Linked DNA regions of Homo sapiens: region 1 is linked to region 2. The links come from fine-mapping of genetic effects on gene expression. Tissue or cell type: atrial appendage. Region 2 holds a variant in brackets; the other region holds the start of a gene. All regions are shown on one strand. Distances are between the middles of the regions.

Region 1 (2,906 bases), 61 kb before region 2:
TTTTCTTTTCTGCTTATCCCAATTTGTTTTTTCCCCTTCTTTGCCTTCTTTTCCTCTAACCCAAATCTCTCCATAATCACTGATTCAGCTGTTGATAATGTGAAATTCTAGGGAAGTTCCAAACAGGAGGATTGAAGGAGCGCAGGGAACTTGGCCCCAAAATATGGCTCCCTGGTATGAGTATTTTCAATTAAAGTCCCTCAAGATCAACAGAAGCTGGAAGAGTCCTCTCCCTTATCTACATGAAGACCCTGCAGACCCACCAAAGAGAACAATTACTTTTCCTTCTCCTCCCTCTTATCTCATTATCTATTGCAGAAAAGAAAACCAACACGTGACCACACCTGAACAGACGCTTTCAAAAAAATAATCCATTTCTCCAGCTTATTAAATTTTCAAAGAGAACCATTTACGAATAACTCTCTGTTTCTTGACCCATTCATTCTCCTTAATAATAATTTATTGCCCCTCAACAGAATCACCTACATTCCGCCTTCCACCCTCCTCTCTGAAAAAACGCTGTATAAGTATCTGGACCTCATGGGATATTGGGTAATCACCTTATTTTTCCCGTGTACACGTTAATAAATTTGTATGCATTTCTCTTATTAATCTGCATTGTACACTTAAAAAGTATTAAAAGAGTGAAATTTATGTTATGAATATTTTATCACAATAAAACAATATTTTAAAAAACTGACAAAAATTCTTTTTAATTTCTTTCAAGTGAGGAATTACCAACTACTTAACAGGGTGCTTAGAATGGGGGATTTTACCAGATAAGTGGCATGCTTTTTACAATTAACAATTGCTGTTATTTACTGAGTATCCACTTTCTCTGCCAGCTCCTGCGTTAAGCACTTTACATATACTAATTCAAATCCTTAAAAAAGAAAATAAAGAAGAGAAAAGGAAAGAAAAATAAGAACATGTAAGGCTATAAGGTGCCTCATCTTTGCCAAATTCTACAGACTGGCCAGGAGACTGCAGGCCACTGCAGCTTCCTAAGGCCACTCAGGACAAGGCCAGTCCGCAATTTGTTTCACTGTGAGACGGCTGCGCGGTCAGAGCCCAGACACGGTCATCAGACTCCCGGACTTGGATTCAGCTCCACATGGTGTCACCCTGGGTAAAGGATGTACATCTCTGCGTGCCTGGGTTTGTATGGATGGCAGCATGGATGCTCAGGCAACTGACCCGTCAGGACTGCAGCAAATGAACAGAAGCTGGGGGAGAGCGCGGGCTGGTGCTGTACGGAGCTCTGGCGCAGAAGGCGCTCACCAGGGGTGCCCAGAGCCGGGGTCTGTGCGCCGCGGGTTGGATCCGGGTCACAGGCTCTGGGTGGACAGAGTGAGAAGACAAAATGAGGATGTACTCCTCAGATGCTCACGAAAGGCCTCCTTCCCCTTCTTTGGGAACGACCCCCCCCCACCCCCTCCCCCCAACAGGCAGTCCCAGGCCGCGCCAGGACTCGGCCGCAGGCAACTCGGAGGAGCGGGAGCCCAGGGGCCTCAGGAGGGCCTCGGGAGTGGGGAGGTGAAGGGGGCGTCGGGAGGGCCGCGGGTGGGAGGCGGGATAGGGAGGCGGGGAGACTCGGAGCGGGGTTGGGGAGGCGAAGAATGGAGGTGGGGAGGTGGGGAGGGGGGCTTCGGGAGGGCCGCGGGTGGGAGGGGGATGGGGAAGCGAGAAGGGGGGGCGGGGAGGGGGGCCTCGGGAGGACCGCGGGTGGGAGGTGGGTGGGGAGGGGGGCCTGGGGAAGGATGGAGCCCGCTGAAGGCAGGCGATGACGCAGGCCCAGTGTACTTCTCCTGGGGGCTCCTTTCTAGGCCCACGGAAGCTCCGTGTTGGTTTCTTTGTACCCATATCACACTCACTGTATTTCTTCTTTCCTTTCCTCTCCCAGCAGCTGTAAGCGCCCTACAGTTTGCATGGGAAGGCAACAGGGACTTCCCTTTTGCACTGTCTGCGGGTACCGCTGTTCCAGCCCTGAGAGGACGAGGGGACGCTGCGCTGTGGGGAAAGTCCGGGTGGCAGGAGGTGGCGGGGCTCCTGGAGGAGGTGCTGGGATGCGCTGCTGTGGCTGCAGAGAAAGGTCCCGAGGACGCAACCCGTCCCTTCCCCCGAACTGCGAAGGAGCCCCGCGGGGAGGACGGGCAGGGTCTCCCGGAGGGAGGAACAGGGGAGCCTGGAGTCTCAGGGTTGCGGGGAGCAGAGGCGTTCTGGGTGGTGAACGTCCCCAGCCTGCCCTCCCTGCTCACTGCGAGGTCGCGCACCGGCTCTGCTCCAGGCCTTCCCTCAGCCCTGGCCTCCAGGCAGTTTCCATTTTTGCCAGGTGGATTCTGTACGGCTTCATTTATTCAGAATCTGGATCAACAAATGAACACTCAGAGAGGAAAAGGGTGTTTGGAGGGGTGGAGAGGTTTCCAAGCAGGTGCCCACCTGAGGGCCCCCTGAAAGGGGACTTAAAGCCGAGTTTCCAGCTGGGCCACCCTTTTTTTTTCTTTCTTTCTTTCAGAAATATAAACAAAGAGCTTGAATTATTTTGAAATAACTGTTGGTAGCTGGACTGTGTTCTCTTGACCGCAACATTGCTCTGGGACTGAATCGCGTGGGTCTCTGCTCTTCCTAAGTGTTACATAAGAATAGCGAACCCATGAGGTCAGCTTCTAAACCAGTTTCTTCCCATAACCTCCTGGACCAAGTCCCAAGCAAGGCCCAGAGGAGCTCAAGGACCCACTCTCCCCGGGACACTCCTCGCTCTCTAGTTGGAAGGAGGAAATGAATGTCCCCCAGTAATTGAAGGCTGCTCATGTTTGTGTAGAAAAGCCAAGCACAGGCCCATATTCTAGAGGGTTGCTTGCGGCAGGCGGAAGGCCATCGAAGGCAAAACGAAACAAATGAAAAGG
Region 2 (2,906 bases):
TGATCCCCCCAGAGTAGCTCTGGCATTCATCAGCTCCTTTTGGGCTAGCTGCTTTGCATTAGAGAAACTTTGCATTAGAGAAACTACAGGGTCATTCAGCTCACTCTTCACCTCTCTCCTGGTGCCACACTCTCTTTGCTTCTCTTCTTATTTTCTTCCCCTCCTCACTCTTTGTCTCCCTCGTGTTTCTGTTTTTTCCTTCCCTCCTCCCTCATCCGTCTCTCTGGTTCTCTCTGTCACCTCTTGCTTCCATCCTCTCCCTCTTTCTGGTGCCTGGTGATTGAGTCAGGAAGGTGTGGAATCTGTTTTCCTGCCCCCAGAACTGTGACTTCAAACCAAGGGAGGAACTGTTTGGGAGAAAGACTGAGGAGGGTTTAGCAGTTATCAAAGGCCCATCAGTGTCGGGGCGGTAGACTTCCTGTTTATACAGCCCTCCTCCTCCTGGGAGGCTCAGCTGAGCCTGGCCAGCTGTGGCTTGGGCAAGCTGCCGGCTCCAAGGCTCAGGATCCCACTGAACTTGTGTCAGGCCCGGCCTCTTACCCTTGGCCCCAGGCTCATTGAGAAGTCCTGGGGTTCCTCACACCTGCTGCTGGCTTCCTCTGCACACTCCCTTGCATCTCCCAGTCTTCCTCTATCAGGGGGTCCTGGGAGTGCGCACTTTTTAGGAGGAAGATGCTGGTGTGTCCACCCTTACCCCTGCAGTGCACAGAGGGGCTTGGTTGGTGGAATGCCTCTGACCCTCTGTCTTAAAGGCAGGAGCCCCGTGTCTCTAAACTGGAAAGCCACCTGGGAATTCATGCATCTGTCCAGCCCTCACATACTGATTAAATACCATTCAGGTGTGAAATATCGAACTGTTCTCCTGCTCCTTCTAGGGCCCTGGTGACACAGATGGAGAAAGGCAAGGATCTCCGTTGGCCCTATGCTCTCCTGAAGTTCACATGCTGAAGAGGACATAGGCAGTGGGCAAGGAAACAAGGGACTGTCAATGGTGACACTGCTGTGGGGCAGCTCAACGGGGACAGAGGCAGGGCTGGGGTGCAGAGGGCGGTCTGCCCGACCTGACCAGGGGAGCAGGGATTTGTGGAATTGAGACCTGAAGAGTGAAGAGGAGACAGCCATAAGCAGATGGGGTCGCTCCAGGCCAAGGTCCTGAGGGGGCCCAGGCTTGATGGCACGGAAGCCTGGGTAGTTTGGAGAGGGGCTCGAGGAACCCTGGAAGGTAGCCAGAGGCACACCTCGCTGGACCTGCAGGCCCTGGAAAAGAGTCTGGATTTGATTCCAGTGGCATGGAAAAGCCATTGGAAAATTTCCCT[C/T]CAGAGGAAAGGCAGCACCAAATTTATGATTTAAAGCCCAAACTGGCTGGCAGGAGCTGCTAGAGGGTCTGTCTCCACAGAGGACCCTGTTGTATGACCTGCACCATCCAGCAGGGGTCTGGTCGCTGTATCAGTGATGACCATGAACTAGGCCCTGAGGGGCCTGGATATCACACACACAAGCTCCTCAATACTCCCGGAAACGGCTACCCATGAACAGAGAGAGACAGCTAGGGGTAGAAAGCAGCGAGTGTGGCATAGTCAATGAAACACCAATTGTCCCTCAAGTGCCACCCCTAAAACCTCTTGTGAGTGTTTGCTCCAGGCCCATCTGGGTTGGAGGAGAAAGCAACTTCCCCTTGCAGGTTGAGGGCACGCACAGCTTCAGGCCAACCCTTTCTACCTCCACACCCGATGGCTCCATATTGCTGGCGTGGAATGTGTTGTATTGACTCACACGGGAAGTGGGGCCCTTTCACCGTGGGCACAGAGTGGCTTGATGGAGATGGGTAGGCAGCAAGGACAGGGGTGCCATCTTAGAGGATTATCCCTGTGTCCCCATGGCTGCCCATGGCAGGGCTCCCCTTGAATCCTCACTTGGAAAAAGCCTCTTCCTGAACAGCAAATGTTTAAAATGGCCTTGTGACCCCACCGAGCCAGTCATGGAGCCCTCAGATGACCTGCCGCAAGACACTTGTCCCAAGCCAGCCACCTCAGTGGGCAGTCAGCATTCTGGGGACCTTATCAGAGGACATGTCCTTCCTTGGCATCAGGTGATCCAGCCTCTGGGCATATGGGAACTGTGGGGGTTGCATGTGGCAAGACTGAAGATTTCCCTCATCAGTGATAAAGACATTGATAAAAGGCTTTGCCACCCTAGGCTTCAGGGTCATATCGCAGAGGGCAGGCAGAATAGGCTCTGAAAATGATGAGAGGAGCCCAGGCCAGATTGAGAAGAGAGCACCTTCTTGCCATGCTCGCCCTGTTAGAAAGAAGCTGGAAGCTGACGTATCTTCACCTCCCATGCTGTGCTCTACACATGGAGTAGTATTTAGAATAACGATAATGAGAATCATCTTCACGCTTTGAGTATGTATTAAGTGCTTATTATGTTAACCATTTTTCATATATTTTCTCAATTAGTTCTCCCCTAAATTTAGAAATATTTTGAGATGACAAGGTTGGAGCTCAGAGAAATTAAGTGACTTGTCTGAGGTCACACTCACACAGGCTAAGTCTGGACTATAGCTCAGGTCTTCCTAACTCCAAAAACTAGGCTTGTAACACCTAAACTTAATTCAGACTAAAGTTGTAAAGTTCCTATTCCAGAGTGTGAATTGATTCATTCTCAACAAGTCCTTTGGGCATTGTTGTAACTCATTAAGCTAAAATCCCCTTGGGGAATTTTTACACACAGTGCTGGAACTGGGTCAGCTTGTGTCCCCTTTGGAGTTGAAACCTGGGACCAGAGTGAGCCGAGTTAGGAAGCAGCTCCCCTTGCAGAGTGCTGAATGCTGCCTCTTCTTGTTTTATTTTTACTGTTTACATGTACTATAAAAGTAGTGCAGGCTTGTTTCAAGAAATGCAAAC

Direction of the effects. Positions count from the first base shown, and alleles are read on the strand shown. Sizes are in standard deviations (SD) of each study's normalised expression.
For the expression in atrial appendage of the gene that starts at base 1,353 in region 1, C is the low allele of the variant in region 2 and T is the other (large effect, 1.1 SD a copy in GTEx).

The links. PIP is the estimated chance that this variant, and not a neighbour inherited with it, causes the effect. A credible set is the group of variants that fine-mapping cannot tell apart.
Region 1: LINC02881 starts here. The variant in region 2 is the best candidate, but not a certain one, in a credible set for the expression of LINC02881 in atrial appendage (GTEx, PIP 0.72).

Annotation. Positions count from the first base shown.
Region 1 is chr10:44,291,398-44,294,303 of GRCh38, forward strand. It overlaps LINC02881 (long intergenic non-protein coding RNA 2881), which reads left to right and starts at 1,353. Exons shown (of 3, transcript NR_164139.1): 1 at 1,353-1,536; 2 at 1,904-2,092; 3 at 2,516-2,906. LOC124902544 (a long non-coding RNA gene) reads right to left here. Exons shown (of 3, transcript XR_007062369.1): 3 at 2,517-2,906.
Region 2 is chr10:44,352,063-44,354,968 of GRCh38, forward strand. No RefSeq gene overlaps it. Among named protein-coding and RNA genes, the nearest start is that of CXCL12, 32 kb to the right of the region's middle. The variant C/T (reference allele first, on the strand shown) is at 1,317.